Regions from separate parts of the Homo sapiens genome. Here regions 1 and 2 are each linked to region 3. The links come from fine-mapping of genetic effects on gene expression. A gene starts in region 3. Each other region holds a variant in brackets. All regions are shown on one strand. Distances are between the middles of the regions.

Evidence for each region. PIP is the estimated chance that this variant, and not a neighbour inherited with it, causes the effect.
Region 1: its variant is the best candidate, but not a certain one, in a credible set for the expression of CMPK1 in whole blood (TOPMed, PIP 0.76).
Region 2: its variant is the best candidate, but not a certain one, in a credible set for the expression of CMPK1 in monocytes after R848 (Quach 2016, PIP 0.52).

The regions. Positions count from the first base shown.
Region 1 is chr1:47,269,272-47,274,271 of GRCh38, forward strand. It overlaps STIL (STIL centriolar assembly protein), which reads right to left. Exons shown (of 17, transcript NM_001048166.1): 13 at 2,805-2,970; 14 at 364-595. Among named protein-coding and RNA genes, the nearest start is that of TAL1, 40 kb to the left of the region's middle. The variant A/C (reference allele first, on the strand shown) is at 2,542.
Region 2 is chr1:47,421,009-47,429,684 of GRCh38, forward strand. All of the region lies in intron 1 of LINC01389 (long intergenic non-protein coding RNA 1389), which reads right to left. Among named protein-coding and RNA genes, the nearest start is that of FOXE3, 9.1 kb to the left of the region's middle. The variant T/C (reference allele first, on the strand shown) is at 4,807.
Region 3 is chr1:47,330,297-47,338,972 of GRCh38, forward strand. CMPK1 (cytidine/uridine monophosphate kinase 1) reads left to right here and starts at 3,494. Exons shown (of 6, transcript NM_016308.3): 1 at 3,494-3,820. The coding sequence starts at 3,650. RefSeq lists a silencer at 3,407-4,046 and enhancers at 3,433-4,236, 4,237-5,040, 4,557-4,616.

The sequences.
Region 1 (5,000 bases), 63 kb before region 3:
ACATAGAAATCATATCAAGTAAAGACATAAAAGAAAATACCAGTTAGAAAATATATCATTTCTGAGTTAGAAGACTTTAAAGAAATTAGAATTAAAAACAAAAAAAAACCTGAACAGAACAGCAACTGTAATGAATAATAATACATTGTATATTTCAAAATTGCTAATAGTAGACTTCAAATGTTTTTACCACAGAAAAAGTTAAGTATGTGAAGTGATAGATTTGTTGGTCTGATTTAATCATTCCATACTGTAAACATGCATCTAAACATTGTGCCCCACAAATATATACAATTATTATTTGTCTATCAAAAAAAATTTTTTTTGAAAGTAGGATGAAAGACTAAATCAAAGAGACCTTACTTGGATACAGAAAGTGGCTGGTTAAATTCTTCTTCCACAGCAATGTTGCTCTCTTCAAAACTGGGAATATCAACTGCTTTTAATGAAGATGCACTACCTGGAAGACTTGTGACTTCATTATTAATATCGACAGAAAAATTCATGTCCTCACTGGAAATTTTGGTATCATCTTGCTTCATTTGAGAGTCAGGCTCTTGATCCTCACCTGCTGCATTCCAAAACAAGCTAGCACCTGGAGGTTAAATAATTTAAGATACTGAAACAAACATTCAACTTTAAAAATAATACTCTGCCAAACCTTTGTTAAGAATAGCCATATTGGCTGGGTGCAATGGCTCACGCCTATAATCCCAACACTTTGAGAGGCAGAGGCGGGAGGATCACTTGAGCTCAGGAGTTCGAGACCAGCCTGGGCAACATGGAGAAATCCTGTCTCTACAAAAAAAATACAAAAAAATTAGCCAGGTGTGGTGGTGTGCCTGTAGTCCCATCTACTCAGGAGGCAGAGGTGTAAGATCACTTGAGCCCAGGAGGTCGATGCTGCAATGAGCTGTGATTGTGCTACTGCATTCCAGCCTGGGCAACTCTGGCTCAAAAAAAAAAAAAAATATATATATATATACACACACACACACACACACACACACACACACACACACAATTACTTAGAACTAAGTTTTTAGATTATATTTCCTCAGAAATGCCAGGAAGAGGTAGGTGGAAGACAGAAAGACAAAACACTAGGGGACGGGTCGGGTGGAAGGGCACATTCTGGGTTCTGCTTTTTCAAGAAGGGTGGCTCTGAAATGATTTGCTTTACATATTAAGATTCTGAATATGATCCGTGGGATGGGGTGTGTATGTTGAAAACTGCTGCTCTGAATAATATGAGATAATATATAAAATACAAATCCCTAGGTTCTCTGGTTTTGACACTTAAATGCAATATTTAAAAGACTACATTGGTGATGCATCAGACATCTGTAATATCTGTAATATCAGGCAGGTATTAAAAAAAATCAAGTGTTTCCCAATCTTTTTTTTTTTTTTTTTTTTTTTTTAAGACAGGGTGTCACTTTGTTGCTCAGGCTGGAGTGCAGTGACACAATCACAGCTCACTGCAGCCTCAACGTCCCTGGGCTCAGGTGATCCTCCCACCTCAGCTTCCCGAGTAGCTGGGACTGCAGGTGTGCGCCACCATATGTGGCTAATTTTTGTATTTTTTTTAAAGATGGGGCTTCATCATTTTGACCAGGCTGGTCTCGAACTCCTAGCATCAGGCAATCCACCTGCCTTGACCTCCCAAAGTGCAAACATTATAGGCATGAGCCACTGCGCCCAGCCAATTTCTCAATCTTTATGAAGCACTTACACCTATCTTCAGAGCTATTTGCATGTAATATTGTTTACTTACTCTTTCTTTAAATTAACTCTTTTTTTACTGAGCCTCATTATTTCTCTAAAATCACAGATTTGATATGCTTATTGTATTTATACCTATGAGTATTGGAAAAGATATATTTACAAAATATAAATATTAATCTGTATAACACCCTAAATCATCTTTTGTACCACGAGCCATAGGCATTCTATAATTTGGGGAATATTGCTAATACATAATGGTTTAAACAGATGGTTAAAACCAAAAAGTAGCCTGGGCACAGTGGCTCATGCCTGTAATACAATCCCAGCCCTTTGGGAGGCTGAGGTGGGTGGATCATGCGGTCAGGAGTTGGAGACCAGCCTGACCAACATAGTGAAACCCCATCTCTACTAAAAATACAAAAATTAGCCAGGTGTGGTGGCAGGCGCTTGTAGTCCCAGCTACTCAGGAAAATCACTTGAACCCAGGAGGCGGAGGTTGCAGTGAGCCGAGACTATGCCATTGCACTCCAGCCTGTGTGACGGAGTGAGACTCCGTCTCAAAAAAAAAAAAAAAAAAAAGTAAATCATAGTCAAAATGGTTTCTACTCTGAGGATATACTTGGGTGATTTTATGAAAATAAATTAATACAAACAAGACTGGCTGGACGCGGTGGCTCACGCCTGTAATCCCAACACTTTGGGAGGCTGAGACAGGAGGATTGCTTGAACCTAGGATGGTGGAGGTTGCAGTGAGCTGAGAGTGCACCACACTGCACTCTAGCTTGGGCAACACAGCGAGACTCCATTTCAAAA[A/C]AAAAAACAAAAAACAAAAAAAAAACCAGAATTGGGTCCAGCCTAGAAAAGTAGCAAAATCAAACACTTTATCATGTTATGCAGTTTGCAGGTGTAGTTTTATTTCACAAAGACTAAAATCACACAAAAACTTAAGTCATACTCTCATCACCTTGGTTTTGGTCCTACTGCACCATGCACCAATTTGAACATAAAATTCAAAAACCAGATATGAAAAGCATTTTTAACAATTTCCTTACAAATTAAAAAAAAACTGAAATTACCTGTGCTCACAGCAATGCTTACACCTTTTCTCATGTGCAAGCCAGGGGAAGACTGTGCTTCCACAGAAACCAACTCCATTTGTCTTCCAGCTTGCACTGTGTCTTCAACAGCAGTTGTCTTAGGGGAACAGGGCATCAGAGACTGTGCTTCCAACAAACGCTGAATCTGTATCAATTAAAAACATACTTTAAACTGACAGGGAAGTAATCAACAAAACTGGCAGCAGTTTAATAATGAATTACAAAGCGCCCTAATTATAAGAAACTGACTTTTAAGTCTATTTTCTCAAATTTCAACTAGACCATACCATGAAACTTATTCAATATAGAAAGCCATTATCACTAGTTATTAAGAAGCACTTTAAGTATACTATTTTTTTTTTTTTTTGAGACAAGGTCTTGCTCTGTCACCCAGGCTGTCACCCAGCCGTGGTGCAATCATGGCTTATTGCAGCCTCAACCTCCTGGGCTCAATCGATCCTCCCACCTCAGCCTCCTGGGGTGGCTGGGATGACAGCCATGCACCACCATGCCTGGTTAATTTTCACATGTTTTGTAGAGATGGGGTTTTGCCATGTTGCCCAGGCTGTTCTCAAACTCCTGGGCTCAAGCAATCTGCCCACCTCAGCCTTTAAGTATACATTTAAAAGCAATACATAAAGGTGTTTAGCTTAGTATTCGTAAGTTGATACTCATGTAAAAAAGTGTGAATGGTTAATACTTCAAACTAACATTATATTCCTATTTCACTTATAAATCAAAAGTTAGATTGGAGGTATACTCTGACTCTCTGACTCCATATACCAAATACTGAACATATCACACAAGATTATTATAAAGGTAAATCAGAATTGCCCATGTTTGCCCATGTTGAAATTGGATATATTAATAACAATGGCTAACAGTTACTGAGCGCCTGTTGTTTGCAAGACCCTATTACTATAGGCTTTTATGTATAATTTTTACAGCAATCCTCTGAAGACTATATTACAATTAAACATTTTTTTTACAAGTAAGAAAACCTGCGGCAAGGAAAAAGTTAAGTTACTTGTATAGGACATATAACTAACAAGTAGCAAATCTGAAAGCTGAGGTTCAAACACCAAAAGCCTCCCCTCTTCCATTTTAAATTGAGATATAATTCATGTACCATGAAATTAGCTGCTTTAAAGTGTACAATTCAGTGGTTTTTGGTATACTCACAAAGTGTGCAATAATCACCACTATCTGATTCCAGAACATTTTCATCAAACCCCCAAAACTCTGTACCCATTAGCAGCCACACCCTATTGCCCTTCTCCGGAGCCCCTGACGGTCTAACATGATTTCTATCTCTGAATTTGCCTATTCTGGACATTTCATATAAACAGTACCATACTGTGGCCTTGTATCTGGCTTCTTTCACTTGGCATAATGTTTTGAAGGTTCAACCATGTTGCAGCATTTACTAATACTTTATTGCTTCTGATTGCTGAATAACATTCCCTTGTATGGATATATCACATTGTGCTTTTCCACTCATCAGCTGACAGACATTTAGGTTGTTTTCACTTTGGGCTATTAGGAATAATGCTACTTGGACATTTACATACAGCTTTTTGTGTGGACATATTTTTTTCACTTCTCTTGGGTATGTAACTAGGAGTGGAAGAGCCTCCCTTTGTAAACACTATGATTTTCTGCTTCTCTACAAATGGTACTACTGTGCTCAATATAATTTTAGTGGATTAACCTTATTAATATAGGAAAATAAGTATCATCAATCAATTATTAAGGTCAGTAGAAATATAAACTGCGCTAATAGTATAAAATGGCATGTGTATTTATAGTGGTTTGGAGTACAGCTTTGGTATCATGTGGCTATAAGTTTAAATCCTACCCTGCTACCTTTTGGAAAAGTTACTTAACCACTATGAGCTTCAATATCACCTAAAACTAAGGTTGTTAAAAGAGATAAATAAAACAGTTGTAATTTGTTGCGTACTTCCTCTAGCCAGGTCCCATACTAAGTAAGCACTTTACACACACACACACACTCATTTAATCTTTAAATCTACATATAATACTGATCATTTCTCCCATTTTATAGGTGAGAAAAGTGAAGTGTAGAGAAATCACATAGGAAATGTACAGTAAAAGACATTACACACACTCAGGTCCTAAAATTGATCACTCAGTGTTTTTAAAACATTAATC
Region 2 (8,676 bases), 91 kb after region 3:
CTTTTCCCTTCCTGGGGCATCTCTCCCAGAACCCTCCAACCTTCTGCTCATCTGGACTGATGGTGCTCCAGGTCGGCTGAACAGAGCTGGATCTGGAAATTCCCTTCACCATTACCTTGGTAATTCTGTGTCCTGTTTTGGATCTTCTACTTCCTGATATCCCTATCTTCCCTTTTTTCTTAGTTTATTCCCTTTTTTCAGTCGAGGTAAAATTTTTTGGAAACTTTGCACATCTGAAATTGTTTTAGCATGAGAAGCTAAGCAGGCATTTGACAATGAAATATTTGCGTCAATGCTATGCTTCTCTGTAGACCTTTTTTTTTGGAGGGAATCAGAGAATGGGAGATATTTTCTCAGCTTAGTATGCTTTACCTGTAGGGAAGCAGGGAAGGTGGTGGAGTATTATGGAAATGAGGGGTTAAGAGTTTTGGCAGGAGGACAGGGCAGGAGAACTCTGGAGATTTCCTTACAGGAGAAGGAAACCTGAGAGGAGAAGCCCTGAGAGGGGTGACTTCCTGACTTAGAGGGAATTGGAACACAGGGAGGGTAGCTTTGGGCCCAGGATGGTGCTGAGCTGGTTTGAGGGCCTCCTGGATCCATTTAAGAAGGAAGCCAACATTACCCTGGCACATGGAAAATTGAGTACATAGGAAAGTGACACCCTTGGCAGTGACACTGGCAAACATGGTAACAGAGAGGCTCCTTCAAGAGAGCCCTCCACTGTAGTGACTGGATTGGTTTTGAGCCCAAGTGTATTACCTCTCTGGGAGATCCTAGAAGTATGGGGGTGAGGGGATTTTGCACGATACAGGTTATTGTGGTTTACTTTTAAAGGGAAAGAATTCTGTGGACTTCCAGTACTGACTTTAATTTTTTTATTATAATGTCAGTATTTGCAGGTATAAATTCTTTAGACTTGTATTTCTTATGTGATTGTTAAAATTGTTTATAAATTAAATTCAAACAATGAAATAAAAATTCAAGTGCATAACATTAGTCAAATGTAAAAGAATATATTGTGGCTGGGCGCGGTAGCTGACGCCTGTAATCCCCAGCACTTTGGGAGGCTGAGGTGGGCGCATCATGAGGTCAGGAGATCGAGACCATCCTGGCTAACATGGTGAAACCCCATCTCTACTAAAAATACAAAAAATTAGCCAGGCGTGGTGGCACCTGCCTGTAGTCCTAGCTACTCGGGAGGCTGAGGCGGAGGAATCGCTTGAACCCAGGAGGCGAAGGTTGCAGTGAGCCTAGATCATGCCACTGCCCTCCAGCCTGGCGACAGAGTGAGACTCCATCTACAAAACAAAACAAAACTAAACAAAAACTATATATATATATATATATAGTTTTGCTGAGACTACATCACTTGCTCCGTGAATGTGGCTCTGACTTCTCCATAGCAGGTTTTCTGGGTTTGTCATTCCTCGGGCCATGTGATGACTAAAGTCACCATTTTTAATTTTATTGATTGATTGATTAACACAGGGTCTCACTCTGTCACCCAGGGTGGAGTGCAGTGGTGCAGTCATACCACACTGCAGCCTTGACCTCCTGGGTTCAATCGATCCTCCCGCCTCAGCCTCTCGAGTAGCTGAGACTACAGGCTTGCACCACCATGCCTGGCTAACACCATTTTTTCCTTTTGAATGAACTGCAGGCATTCCTTCATGTAGCAGGCCATGATACCAATGGGCCCAAATACAGCATATATGTATAAAATCTACATTGTTTTTTTGCCTCATCTCAAGATTAAAGTAGCATTACCTGATAATAAATGGAAATAAAGACTTCAAGTATTAGGTATCTCTTACAAGGAAGTCATCTAAGTGATCCAGAATATGCTTATATGAATGTGCTTATTATAGCGAAAAAAACCAACATTCAAAAAGTTTTATAAATTCCCACATGAATAAGAATATATTCTTGGGCCAGGTGCGGTGGCTCACACCTGTAATCCCAGCACTTTGGCCGAGGCGGGCGGATCACCTGAGGTCAGGAGTTCAAGACCAGCCTAACCAACATGGAGAAACCCCATCTCAACTAAAAATACGAATTAGCCGGGCATAGTGGTGCATGCCTGTAATCCCAGCTACTCGGGAGCTTGAGGCAGGAGAATCGCTTGAACCCAGGAGGCGGAGGTTGCGGTGAGCCAAGATTGCACCATTGCACTCCAGTCTGGGCAGCAAGAATAAAATTCTGTCTCAAAAAAAAAAAAAAAGTATATATTCTTGGACCATACTTCAAACTAAGCAATTAAACATTTTAAAACATTTATCTAAATAAATAACTCTTTGGTTAGAAGAAAGTTGTCATTACAGACTATTTATAAATTAATAAAGGTAAGAACAGTACATATTAAAATCTAAAGAATGTAGTCAAACTTGTGCTCAGAGGAAATTTCATAGCCCTAAATATGTCACGGACACAGAGTTAGAGGGGCCCTGGGGTGGGGTAGGGAGACCAGTTACAAGGCTACTGCAGCATCCAGGCAGGAAAGGGTGGTGGTTTGGTAGAGGTGGAGGTGCAAGTGGAAAAAAGTAGATATGCAAAGCTATATAGAAAGAATCAGCCATTGGCTAACATCATCCTAATCTACCATCCTAATCTACCAAGGCCAAACGCTTTCCCATTTAATCATAGCCTCAGGCCAACCCTGAAAGCTTGGAGTGGTCATTTTGCTGGTAGTCACCGCTGATCTGGCTTGCCTAATTTAAAGAGTAACTAATTTCAATATACCTATTAGCCCAGAAGGAACAGACAACATTGTCAGAGATGGTTCCTCCACTGCTCCCACCAGAGGGCACCTAGGTTAGCTGTTTTTTTCCTGTGAATTCTGTCAAACCATTGAGGAACCTATTTCTCTAGTTACATAAATTGCTCCAGAACACAGAAAAAATGGAAGTCATCCCAATTCTACGGACTATGTTATCTAATTATGTTATCAAAACCTGATAAAGGAATACACAAAATATAGCCTAATCTCACATATGAAAGATGATGCAAAACTTGTCAGCAATATATCAGCAAATTAAACTTAGTAATGTATTACAAAAAAAATATGCAATCGTGCAGTTTATTCCTGGAATGCAAAGATGGCATTCTTAGAATTATTTGCTCCCCATTGTAGGAACTGTGCATCATCACCTTTATAGATGATGAAAATCAGGCTCAGAAAGGTTAAGTGACTTACCCAGGTCAAGCTGCAAAGTGACTGACCCAGGACTTGCTTCCAGGTCTGCCTGGCTTCAAAGTCATTCTCCTTTCTCTCAGGAAGAAACAAGTGGAGGTGGAAACTTGGATGAAAAGCCCCAGGCACCAATAAAATTATTCAGTTCACCCTAATATCCTCCTCCCCTACACCCGCACCCACTGTCCCGATCTTGAAAAGAGCCTTTCCAGCCGTGATGACAGGTCTTTGGTTTCCTCTTTTTTTGTCTGTCTTCCACTCCCCACACCCTTTTCACACCCGAATACTCCTCTCTCCCCTTTCCCTCTTTCTAATCTCCTTTCTCCCATCAATTTTTGGAGATAAAAGCGCCACCTATTGGCCACCTCGTGTGCACCTGATTTGAGCAGGAAATCACTGGAATGAAGTCAGGATCCATTTGGATGCTATTTTGGGCTGGCAGGAGCCCCTGGTGGCTGAAAGGCACTTGCTCCAGCAGGGAAACCAATTGTTTGGTGCAGAAGAGGAAAACTAGCTGCAGTTCCCACCTCCTCTAGAAAACCCTCCCAGATCTTTCACCCTCCCCACTTCCTCTTGACAGGCTTTGGTAGTTGCTCCACTGCAAATGGAATTGGAATGGGTGTGAGGTTGGTGGCCCTAGGTGCAGACAATTTATCTACTCTGTAAGAGGGAGACAGAGGAAAGGGGGCTGGGCTGGAGGCAGAAAACCTGGGGTCTAGTCTCAGGTCAAACACTTAGGCAAGTCCTTTACTTTCTCTGCACTTCATAGCAATTACTGCCTCTCCCCAAGTCCCTTGATTGTGCCAGGTCCTGTGCTCTTTCCCAGCTGAGGACTCAGAGATGTATCAGACACTGTCCCCGCTCAGAGAGCTCAAATATTGGCAGATGACAATATAGTATGTAGAATGCTTTATGAGATGAGGGGTTGCTAGGTCTCCTTGGTCACTCACCAATTCCAGCCTCTATCCTGACTCAGCCTCAGTCTACCTCGAAATAGAGAATGTGCCCGATCCTCTCTGTCTGGGTAGGGATGGCCTTTGTGACTGCTAAAGCATTGTGATGATGGGTGAGGATTTTCTACCCTGCCTGACTGGGGCTTCCCAGACAGCGCCTGTGTCTTCTCTGTTCCACTATGTCCCTCACTGGGCAGCCTGGCCAGAGCTGGGCATACTGCAGCTTTGGTTTGAACTGCCCTTATCTGGAGGCTGGACTTGGGGTTTAGGGAGTTGATGAGACTTAGAGACAAGAGGCCTGGACCCTGCTTGAGGGAGACACAGGTCCCACCCTGGGCATCAGTCTGTCTCCCTTGAGTTATGAAGGGGCTGGGGTTTTGTGAGCTTCACAAAGGAATGCTTCCTGAAGGTGGTGGGTTGGAGTTCTGAAAGGAGGGAGGGGAGGGCCTGCTGCTCCTGTTCCTGTGAAATCCCTTCTTCCTCTATCCATCCTAACCCCTGTCCAGCTGGCAGACTTTCAAAGTAATTTAGATGGGACGAACAGAGGGAGGGAGCCAAAGACAGAGGGATGGGAACAGAACAGGAAGGAGGAAAGGCAGAAAATCTGGGGTCCTAGCTAGCAGACTCAACTGCTTCCCTGTCTGATGGGCAGGCAGATGATAC[T/C]CACAGGCACCTCACATGTCTGGCTTCACGTCCCTTGCTTTCAACATTCATAGCCACCAACCATATTTTCAAGTTGGAGCCCATAAAAAGTGTTCAGCTCATAGTAATGGTTTTTATTCTTATGTTCTGCACACTCAGTCTTAGTTATTGAAATAATCCAACTGTTTCTTTTAAAGTTTTTAATTGTTGAATAAGTAATACATTCACTTCACTTTACAAATATAAAAAAGTCATCCATGAAGTCTCCCATTTGTTTCCAATTTGCCCTAGTGTATAATCAGTTACTAGATTTTTATTCATCCTTCTAGATATTTTTGTTTCATACGTAAACCAATACAAGTATACATTATTTTCTCCTTGAAAAACACAATTGGATGCATGTTTACACTGTTCTATATATCTTGAAATTTTTTTTTCACTCAACAATGTATCTTGGCTGGGTGCAGTGGCTCATGCATGCAATCCCAGCACTTTGGGAGGCCAAGGTGGGTGGATCACTTGAGGTCAGGAGTTCGAAACCAGACTGGCCAACATGGTGAAACCCTGTCTCTGCAAAAAATACAAAATTAGCCAGGTGTGGTGGCACTTGCCTGTAATCCCATTACTCGGGAGGCTGAGGCAGAAGAATCGCTTGAACCCGGGAGGTGGAGGTTGTAGTGAGCCAAGATCACATCACTGCACTCCATCCTGGGAGACAGAGCGAGACTCCGTCTCAAAAACAAAAACAAACAACAAACAAACAACGTATCTTGGTGCTTTCTCCAGCTGAGTACATAAAGAACTTCTATATTCTACTTTTACAGTATACTGGTCCCTTTTTCAGATGTTTCATTATTTGCTTAACCTGTCCTTGATAGACATTTATGTTGTTTCCAACCTTTTGACATTCCGAACAGCACCACAATGTGACTTTGTACATATGTCATACCATATGTGTGCAGGTATACCAGCAGGAGAAATCCCTGGAAGTGGATTTCCATGCAGCCTTTGTCAAGGCACTACGTCCCCTGTGTGGTCACACTGGCTCCTTTCAACAGCAGTCCTCTTTTATTTCTCAAAGGGACCCTTGATGACCACAGTCAGATTTTCACCTTCTCAAACCCGACTGCCTTCTTCTCCAGGGCCTTTCCATCAGTCTGCCACCAGTCCCTTCACAAGGTATCCTGGCCTCTGGATTTGGGAAGCATGGGTACTTGCCATGCCCACCCTGGGGTGTGCTGTGCCGTGGCTGTCAATCCATTCAGGGTGGTGGCTCCTTTTCCTTTTTAGCCCCCAAATCCTGGGCATCCATGGCAGGTATAGGGAACCAGCTTTTTGGACCTCCACCATTCAGGCCTCCAGGCTTCCTGCCAAATGGTGCTGTCTCCCCATCTGGGTCCCCAGTTGTGACTCCTTTCTTCTGACCATAGGATAATGCTGTAAGATCTGCTCCACTACTGTTTCAGATTTCCCATTTCATTGCCTCTAGTCCCCCAGATATGAGTGGCCCCAACTTTGAAGGAAGGTGTGGATGAGGAAAGATCACACAGAGCCCCTGTGAGAGGTGTTCATGTAACTAATGGGGAGTCAAATTTCAAGGCTGGAAATGAGGCCCTTGGCAGACTGGGAACCTCTGGGTTGCCCAGGCCTGTGATGTCAGCTCATGTAGCAGTTGTCACCATTTTGGGCTGACCTAGGCAGAGGATGAGGAGTAGCCTGTTCCAGCAGACCTTGAGGGGGCTGGGCAGGGCAAGGCCAGGCAGTAACATGATGATTATTGTTGTGATAGGTATGGCACAGTAGTTAAGAGCCCTGATTCTAGACCCAGATTGTCTGTGATGGAGATACACTTCTCATATGTTGGATGAGGAAACTGAGGCCTTGGAAGAGGCGGGGGCATGCTTGAGGTCACATAGGAAGTCAGGGAGAAGACAGAGAGTAGGGCCCAGGCCTCTTGGCTCAGGCCCCACTGTTCCTCTGCAGTTGCAGGAACAAACCAGTGGGTAATGCATTTTCATGGCAGGATGGAGGTGTCCCTGAACATGTCAAGGTTGGAGAGGAGGGCAAGGCACCTCACTGAGACATCCTGATCCATGACGGGCTCCAGCTAGAGCACTAGGTCTCAGGAGTCCCCATGAGGTAGCAGGATAAGAAATTTCCCTAGTCCGTTTCCAACCCAGCTATCTGGATGCTTTACAAATGAGGAAATGCAGGCTTACAGAGATTATTTGTCTGAGACTAATAAGTGGTAAGAGCGTAATTTGAACCCAGCTCTAAGACCTGAACTCTTCTTGCTACACCTGGGTGCCTCTATGATTCATACTCAGTGATTACCCAGCCTCCACTCTAGCACTTCCAGTGACAAGGAACTCAGAGCCACCGAGGTAATCTACTACATCTCAGAGACAGCCCTGTTAGAATGTTCTCCTTGCATGGAGACACAGAAAGTGAGGCTTTTTACCCCTTTCTGGCTCTCTTTTGCCTTGGTGTCTCTGCCCCAGATGAGCCCTGTGGAGATTGGGAGATGCTGGCTGTGTTAAGCCTTTATTCTCCAGGCTAATTACCTCAGACCTTTCTTTCGTGTTTATAGGACATTTTCTCAAACTTTCGTGCATTAAGCAGGGTTAGGTTCAGTTGTGAATGACAGACTGGCCCCCCCAATCCCACATCAGTGGTCTAAACAAGACCAAAGTTTATTTCTCTTTTACATAACAGTCAGTGCAGGCAGTTCAGGGTGGTATGGCAGTTCAGTGGTCTCAGAGACCCAGGATTCTTCTCTTTTGTGGCTAGGCTATTTGTGAAATTCAACTCAACTAGCAGAAATCCACCTCAACCTAGCTTAGCAAAAGGGGAGATTTCTTTCTTTTTGAATGTCTGGAAAGTCTAGGGGTTCCAGTTTCAGGCAGAGCTGGATCCAGGGACTCAAACACTATTTTTAAGTCTCTTTCTCTCTTTAGGCTGTTTTCCTCTGTGTGTGGGCTTTGATGTCAAACAGCACTCTCCATGTGGCAGGGAGATGGCTTCTGACAGCTAAGCCTGTGTGCTTGTCTTCTGATCCAAAAGGAGAGGTGCTCCTCCCAGAGTCCCAGAGTGCCAGTCCCATGGTCTACATAGTCCCAAATCTCAGAGTCCATATGTCAAATCATGTAGAAGGGGTGACTGGCTACTTAGGTCACTTACCACTGCCTGGACCAATCACTGGGCCTTGAACTTGCAATGGTATGTATGACCCAGTTGGTTGCCTGTCTGCTCCTGGGGAGTAATTGTGAGGGGAACAAATTGGATAGCCCCGTCAGGACCACATGGAACACAGGAGGGAAGGTTTCCTTCAACAGAGGGCCGAGACATGCAAAAACTGTAAGCATGTTCAGCTCATCATGCCAGGGAAACTGCATTTTGTCTTACAAGCAATGTGGAGCCCCTGGAAGACTTTGGCAGGGCTCAGTCTGGAAGCTGGTTTGATTTGTCACAACCATTTTAAAAGGAGGAAACTGAGGCAGAGAGAACAACAGACAAATCCAATGACTGCTACAGCCAGAAACCACGGATAAACTCTGTCTGAGAGGGAGACATGTTCTCCTCCCCTCAAAGATGGGGACTGATGGGAGAGAAGCAACCTCTGTTCTTAGTGAACACGTAGTTCTATTGATGATCTGAGCTACAACCTCTGTTCCCAGTGAATACAGAATTCCATTGATGATTTACTGATGAACTCCCTAGAGTTCTATAGGGAGTCCCAGAGAGAGAGATATGCCATACCTTCCTTTCTTCCTTCCTCTTTTCTTTCATTAATATATCCACATATCTAACATTAATTGAGCACCTACTGTGTGTCAGGCTTTGTGCCTGGCAGGAGGTAGAGTGATTAATAATGATGATGCAAAACATTTA
Region 3 (8,676 bases):
CATTCCTGGAAATGACTCCCTGGAAAACCCTTCGCAGAGATGGGTGTCTGGGTTTCAGTTTTTAGAAATCTTTCCACATTAATATTTTCCTTAGTTGCCTAACATAACTGGCAGAAGGAGACAGGCAAGGAACAGGACATTAAGTACTCAACCAACTGTGGTCATAATTATCCAGAAAGTTTTTTTCTCTGTGAAAAAAAAATCACCACATATTGCTTTAAGTAGGTTTACTAGGAAGTTTCAGACCCAAACCCCTGTGTGGAATCCTTAGTTCTGGTGTTCTATCATGGAAACAACAAAGACTGTCTTTTTGTCTCTAGCCCAAGGCCTTCACTAAAAGTATGCCAATAGCTTCCTAGCCCTTTTTCTCACAGACACCATATCCTTAAGATCTTTTAACTCTAATTGTGTGAACAAAGGAAAAGAAGACACATTTGTTTTGATATGGCCTTTTTCATACTCCTGCTACCCATTCCCAATATGACCAATTGTCCTTGTTCTTGGCTGCCCATGTCCTAGCTCCTCCTCCCCAGAAGCTGAAGGGTTTGGAGCCTTCTTTTTTTTGAGACAGAGTCTTGCTCTGTCGCCAGGCTGGAGTGCAGTGGTGCGATCTCAGCTCACTGCAACCTCCACCTCCTGGGTTCAAGCAATTCTCCTGCCTCAGCCTCCCAAGTAGCTGGGATTACAGGCATGCACCACCACATCCAGCTAATTTTGTATTTTTAGTAGAACTGGGGTTTCACCGTGTTAGCCAAGCTGGTTTCCAACCTCAGGTGATCTGCCCACCTTGGCCTCGCAAAGTGCTGGGATTACATGCATGAGCCGCTGCGCCCGGCCGTGTTTTTTTATGTGAAAATTCACATATCTAAACGTGGGTCCCTGTTTTTGTATAGCCTTCAAGCTCAAAATAATGTTCACATTTTAAAATGGATTTTAAAAATAAAAATAAATAATATTTTGGGACACATGCAAATTATATAAATTCAAATTTCAGTATCCATAGAAAAATGTTTTGTTTTTGTTTTGAGACAGGGTCTGGCTCTGTTGCCCAGGTTAGAATGTAGTAGCACGATCTTGGCTCACTGGAGTTTGCACCTCCTAGGCTCAAGGGCTGCTCCCACCTCAGCCTCCACCTCCTGGGCTCAAGGGATCCTCCCACCTCAGCCTCCCATCTCAGCCTTCCGAGCATCTGGGACTACAGGTGCACACCACCACCTGTAGTGTAGTGTAGGCCTGGCTGGGCGCGGTGGCTCATGCCTGCAATCCCAGCACTTTGGGAGGCCAAGGCAGGAGGATCACTTGAGCCCAGGAGTTCAAGACCAGCCTGGACAACATGGTGAAACCCCCTCTCTACTAAAAATACAAAAATTAACCAGGGGTGGTGGCAGGTGCCTGTAATCCCAGCTACTTGGGAGGCTGAGGCAGAAGAATCGCTTGAACCTGGGAGGTGGAGGTTGCAGTGAGCCAAGATGGCACCACTGCATTCCAGCGTGGGTGACAGAGTGAGACTCTATCCCCCCCAAAAAAATTTTTTTCCAGCTGTGATAATAAAAAATATCCCATTCTCCTTTCTATGGTGGGAAGGAAAAGGTAGAAGTTGTGGAGAGGAAAGAGGTAGAAATTAAAGGGAGAATGGAAAAGAAGGGCAAACAAAGGCAAGTAGGTGAGGAGAAGGACAGGAAAAGAGACAGGGAGAAGGGAGGGACTTATAAATGGGAAAAGAAGGGTAGGAAGGATGGGAATAAGTAAAAACAACAACAACAAAAAGAAAGCAAGGAGAGAGAGTAGAGATGGGGAAGAGCCAGAAAATGCTGAGTGAGCTAAGAAAGGACCACCAAAAGAAAAAGGAGAATGGGGGTGGTCAGACAGAGGGCTATACCACTATCTTCCTCTCCTGTTTGCTTTCGTTTACTAACGTCCTGGTCACTCTGCCCTAAACAGCTTAGTTCCTTTCCCATAGTCTTTGTTCACTCCAGCACTATCTGACTTGAACTTGTACCTGTACGACAAATCTAACACCCTGGACTCTTAGTTCTAAAAACAGGACATGCATTCTGCCTCAGTCTTCCATTCCCATGGTCTCACCCTGGACCTTGGCATCATCAGAAACTCAGAAGCTGGGACATTTCAATTCCAAATATCCCACTCAGACCAGCAGCATCCATACTGCCAGAGCACTTGCTCATATACCCCACTGCAATCTTTCTTGGGCCAATGCTCTAAGACATTGGTCCCTTTCCCCACCACCCTCCAACCCCTCCACTACCAGGCTTCATGTGCCATTATTTGCTTTCCTGTATGGTTTTGATTCTACACACAGCATCATGAACATTCTCTTCCAAACACTCTCATCACTTGGCCCCCTCTCTCTGTTGTACTTGCCAGGCAAAATCCCAACCCTCAGTAAATGCAACAAGCTGCCTTCTCTGCCTGTGCCTGAATGGCCAAACATCTTCAATTATTTTGAATCCGTTACCTCAAATATCAAATGAGCTCTTAACGTTGGCCAGAAGGCCTTTTAAAGGCCTGTATGCACCAAGGCTCAGTTCTTGAACGTCTCCTTTTCTTCTCCCTTAAGATTCTTCCCTAATGAAGGGGGCAGGCGAACGGAGTTAAAGGGCTTCCATTGCTGTTAGAATACAGCCCAAATTCCTTTCCATAATCAAAAGTCCTGATCTGCCACCGACCTCACTTTCTCAACTTTTCACCTTCCATTCTCCCCTCATTTGACTCAGCCCTGGTCTCACTGTCACTGGCCTTTTTTCCTTTTTTTTTTTTGAAGCAGTCTCATTGTCACCTAGGCAGGAGTGCAGTGGTGCTATTACGGCTCCTAGGCTCAAGTGAACATCCCAGTAGCTGGGATCACAGGCACGGGTCACGGTGCCCGGCTTTTAAATTTTTGGTCGAGACGGGGTCTCGTCATGTTGTCCAGGCTGGTCTCGAACTCCTGGGCTCAAGCCATCCTCCTGCCTCAGCCTCCCAAAATGCTGGGATTACAGGCGTGAGCCACCGCGCCCAGCCAGGCCTTCCTTCAATTGCTTTAACATGCCAAACCAACTTAGATTTTTTGCACATGCTTTTCTCTGTGGGACACTCTATCCTGGTGTTTGCCTGGTTTCGCTCTTTTCTATCCTTTTGTCTTGGCTTGAATGTCACCTCTTCTGAAGCCTTCTCTGGCGACCCTGGCCATCTTATGTCCTACTTGTTATTTCTTCAAAATCGTACTGCCTTTTGTATGTACTGGTGTTTACTCATTCACACTGGCTACCTCCCCATACCTCACTGGCTGGAATGGAAACTCATTGCGAGCAGAGACAATAGGTTTTGCTCTCCCGCGGATCACGTCCCAGCCTCCAGCTCAGCACCAGACACTTGAGGGCGCAGGATAAAATATCTGCAGTCAGAAAGCACTAATAACCACCCAAGGGTTGGAGGAAAGCTGGCGCGGACCGCACGAGTGTCGCCGAGACGCCGCCGCCGTGCGAAGCTCCTCCCCTTCCGACAGGGCCGCGGACGCCCGGGCAGCCACGGCGGCGGGGCCGCGGCGGGCGCCGGCTCAGCCCGCCCCTTTCTCCCGCCGCCTCCCCGCCCCGCCCCGCGCCGCGCCGGCCGCTGTCAGCTCCCTCAGCGTCCGGCCGAGGCGCGGTGTATGCTGAGCCGCTGCCGCAGCGGGCTGCTCCACGTCCTGGGCCTTAGCTTCCTGCTGCAGACCCGCCGGCCGATTCTCCTCTGCTCTCCACGTCTCATGAAGCCGCTGGTCGTGTTCGTCCTCGGCGGCCCCGGCGCCGGCAAGGGGACCCAGTGCGCCCGCATCGTCGAGGTGAGGCCCGGGCAGCAGGCGGGCTCCTTGGGGCTTGACGGGATGCGGGCCGGCCTGTCCCGCCGCCCCTAGTCCGCGCCCCGCGGAGTCGCCGAGCCGCAGACTACGAGTCCCGGCGGCCACCGCGCCGCCCGCGTGGCAGTGGCCGAGGGCCGCCGGCGCGCGGCGTGCCGGGACTTGTAGTCCGCGCCCGCCCGCCTTGGGGGCCACCGCTTGAGGTCGCTTTGTTCCTGCGCCCCTTCTTTTCTTACATTTTGGGGACCAGATTCGTCTCTAGAGTGGGCTGGGAGAGGGATCCCGGAGGCCAACCTTTGGGGGTCCCCCAGCGCGCAGAGGTTAGCGTGTCGCTGATCGTGTGGCAGGTGAAGGCAGCAGGAGCGCGGATTTGGGTTAGAGGCCGTGTGCGCCCACAGTTGTCTGAAGGAGAGACCTATTTTTCTTCTCCGCGCCTTCCCTCTGGTTCCCTAAACTCCGCACTGTCACCGAACGTGTCTTTACTCTAGAAAGGAGGCCCGTGGGGCGGGGTGTTATTTTAGGCGTGCTGTGGGCTGCCGCTGGCACTCTCGAGCCCCGTCCCCGCAAGCTTTAGGGCGGAGCCAGCCCTGAGGCTCGGCCCGGGTCGGGGATGGGGAAAGCCGGGAGTGCTGTTCTGAGATCAAGCTTCAACCTTTGGCCCTGCTGCCAACTCACGCTCGGCCCTCGGTCACTTCCTGTCTCCCAGCCTCAGTTAGCCCTTGTAATACAGTAAAAAGAGTCTCTGAACCCAGATTTTCTCAGGATATAAAACACCTCCCAAATGTAAAATGCTGTTACTTTTTTTTCTTTTGCTTTGAGACAGGTTACCAGTTCAATTCTTTTAACAATTTTTGAGCTAGATGTATGGTTGGTTAGCTGCATTGACACTGTGGGAAAAAAAGGCTTCATGGACAATCTGGGGAATGCTTGGGAAAGAAGGAAAACAGGATATCTAGAAACAGAAGAGGCGACCATTGGTGGCCTCTAGTGAAATCACTCTGAAACCCTGTAACCAACAAAAGTTTTTTTGACCTAGAACTTATAATTTCCTCCTCTTCTAGGATATGGCCAATATTAGCATGGGGCTTTTGCTTCTCTCCTTATATGTTCATAACAATCAACTCCTGTCCTGTATTTTATTCCCTAAATAGCATCCAGAGAAAGTTAGATGAGTTCAACAAGTCATTATGTGTTGGACAGATGTATTTATAAATATTGATCATTTTGCCAGGCGCTGTGGCTCACTCCTGTAATCCCAGCACTTTGGGAGGCCGAGGCTGGCGGATCACGAGGTCAGGAGTTCGAGACCAGCCTGGCTAACATGGCGAAACGTTGTCTTTACTAAAAATACAAAAATTAGCCTGGCGTGGTGGCGGGCGCCTGTAATCCCAGCTACTCCGAAGGCTGAGGCAGGAGAATCGCTTGAAACCGGAAGGCGGAGGTTGCGGTGAGCCCATATCGCGCCACTGCACACTAGCCTGGGCGAAAGAGTGAAACTCCGTCTCAAAAAAAAAAAAAAAAAAAAAATCATTTTAGGTGTCAAAGTGGAACTAGTCCAACTAAAAAAATACATAACATTTACATCCTCTTAAAAAAATTTTTTTTTGTTGGTTCTCTTTCTTTTGTTGTTTTTTTGTTTTTGTTTTTGTTTTTGTGACAGTCTCACTCCGTCACCAGGCTGGAGTGCGGTGGTGCGATCTCAGCACACTGCAACCTCCGCCTCCCAGGTTCAAGCGATTTTCCTGCCTCAGCCTCTGCATAGCTGGGATTACAGGCGTGCGCCACCACGCCTGGCTAATTTTTGTATTTTTGGTAGAGACAGGGTTTCACCATGTTGGCCAGGCTGATCTCGAACTCTTGACCTCGTGATCTGCCCGCCTCAGCCTCCCAAAGTGCTGGGATTATAGGCATGAGCCACCGTGCCTGGCCTTGTCACTTGTCTTTTAAAAAGTAAAGAGACTGGCTGCTGCACTCCAGCCTGGGCGACAGAGCGAGACTCCGTCTCAGAAATAAATAAATAAATAAATAAATGGCAAGTGAAAAGTGGGAGTGATTTCAAATTTTTGTTTAGTATATGTGATCTTTCTTAAATAGCATGATGGGGGAAGGGGCAAAGACTTTAGAGTCAAAGAGATATAGGTTCAAACCCTGACTCTGCCATTTACTGTTTCTCTAGGCCCAGAGATGTTGTTGCCTTTAGTTCCCTGTGAAAAGGGAAAACATAGAAATGGCTGTTTTGTATGGTATTTGTGAATATTAAATGAGGTAAAATATCTGGCACACAGAGACAGATGCAGATAGTTTTTTTCTCCACTTTAAACTTCTGATCTTATTACCTCTACTTTAAACTTCCTGATCTTATTATATTGGTTATTTTTATTGGTGGGTTTTGTTGTTGTTGTTTGTTTTGAGATCGAGTCTCTCTGTGTCACCCAGGCTGGAGTGCTGTGGTACCATCTTGGCCCACTCCAACCTCTGCCTCCTGGGCTCAAGCCATCCTCTCACCTCAGTCTCCCAAGTAGCTGGGATGACAGGTGTGCACTGCCACTCTCTGCTAACTTTTTTTCAGGTTTTTGTAGAAACCAGGGCTCACTATATTGCCCAGGCTGGTCTCGAACTCCCAGACTCAAGGGATCTTACTGCCTTGGCTTCTCAAAGTGTTGGCATTACAGGCATGAGCCGCCATGCCTGGCCTGGTTATTTTTATTGCAAAATAGTATTTTTCTTTTAAATTACTTTATGCGTGTTATATTTGAATGCATTTAAATACAGTATGCTGTTTCTGAATCATAATATGCCTTTAAAATATCTGTACCTAAATTAATAATACCCATACTACTACACTGGTTAAAAAATAATCTACACATTCAGGGCTGGGCGCAGTAGCTCACGCCTGTAATCCCAGCAGTTTGGGAGGCCCAGGCGGGTGGATCACGAGGTCAGGAGATTGAGACCATCCTGGCTAACAAGGTGAAACCCCATCTCTACTAAAAATACAAAAATTAGCCGGGCGTGGTGGCAGGCGCCTGTAGTCCCAGCTACTTGGGAGGCTGAGGCAGGAGAATGGCATGAACCGGGGAGGCGGAGCTTGCAGTGAGCCAAGATCACGCCACTGCAGTGCAGCCTGGGTGACATAGCGAGATTCCATCTCAAAAAAATAAAATAAATAAATAAATAAATACATAAATGAAATAATCTACACATTCTGCAATTATTCTTTATTCTGTTCAGTAATGGCAAATAATATTTTAAACTTGTTAATTATCAGTTACAAGATTCCATGATGAGATATGTTCTGTAATGTATTATATTATTAAGATTTCAACAATTATTTGACCTTAAACTGTTATCTTCTTTAATGAAAAGTATTCTCTTGAGTCTAGTTGCCATAAACTTTATTAAGCTGTCAATCAACTAATTCCAAATAGTTTATAATTTAGCAATTGCTATTCCCTAGCTGGCTAGACAGACACTGGAATATCTATTTTTTTTTTTTTTTTGAGACGAAGTGTCACGCTGTCGGCCAGGCTGGTGTGCAGTGGGGCAATCTTGGCTCGCTGCAGCCTCCATCTTCTGGATTCAAGCGATTCTCTGCCTCAGCCTCCCGAGTAGCTTGGACTACAGGTGCGCGCCACCATGCCCGGCTAATTTTTGTATTTTTAGTAGAGACGGGGTTTCACTATGTTGGCCAGGCTGGTCTCGAACTCCTGACCTCGTGATCCACCCACCTTGGCCTCCCAAAGTGCTGGGATTACAGGTGTGAGCCACTGTGCCCGGCCTGGAATATCTATTGTTAGTGAAGTCAGCGGTATGTTGTTTTTTTCCTTTGTGAATCTCTTTATTTTGACTCAATATTTTTTTATACAGGCAATTATAAACTAAATTCCAAAATAATGTAAGTTTTGGAGGTTTTTTTCCTGTAGGAAAAAAATTACATAAATCCACGGTAAATTCTCCAATTAATCTGGCTGAAGCTAATGCAGCTCACAGGGCACCTGAAATTGTTACTTTAGTATGTTGATTTCCAACTCAGGCTGCCAGAAGTACATATTTGAGTCCTAGCTACAGAATCTTCAGTTGACAGGAAGAGAAGAAAAAGAGAAAACCAAAAACCCTTAGGGATATCTTGCTCTCTAAGGCACTGAAATTAGTGAAGTGGGTATTGTTAGAGGGAAGCTGGTATTTTTTCTCTGGAGGTGAATTCTGCTCTGCAAATTGCTCCTGGAGACCTAGAGAAGGTAAAGGCAAATCTGATACAGTGTCTTCTGAGAGTGTTCTGTACTGGGAAGGAAAGATTGGAGGGAGGTTTTGGGATTGATTTTGCACATTTATTTGTACTGATGTTTTTCAGTTTTGTTTGCTTTTCTCCTTCCTTCCTTCCTTCCCTCCCTCCCTCCCTCTCTCCTTCCCTCCCTCCCTCTCTCCTTCCCTCCCTCCCTCTCTCCTTCCCTCCCTCCCTCCTTCCTGTTCTTTCTTTTTCTTCTTTTCTTTTTTTTTTACCAAATACCCAGACTTGGAGAATTTGTTTTATTTTCTAATTGTTTGTAAATCTGTATCCTCTAATACTGAATTTGTTTTTGAAAATGAGCTATTTTCTAAATCAGTGTGATACTTAGAGTTAAGTTTCCAGAATGGAATTATTGTGCAATAATTTAGTTATAAAATCATGATGGGAATACTGTGTCATTCTTGAATTTTTAAAATTAAGCTTTATTTATATTTGTTGTTTTGGCCCAAATGAAATTATGTCAATGTAACCTAAATTTATATTTGAAAATAACCACCATTTTACATGCATTAGTTGGAAGAAATATTTAAACCTCTCTTTTAAAGATTGTGAA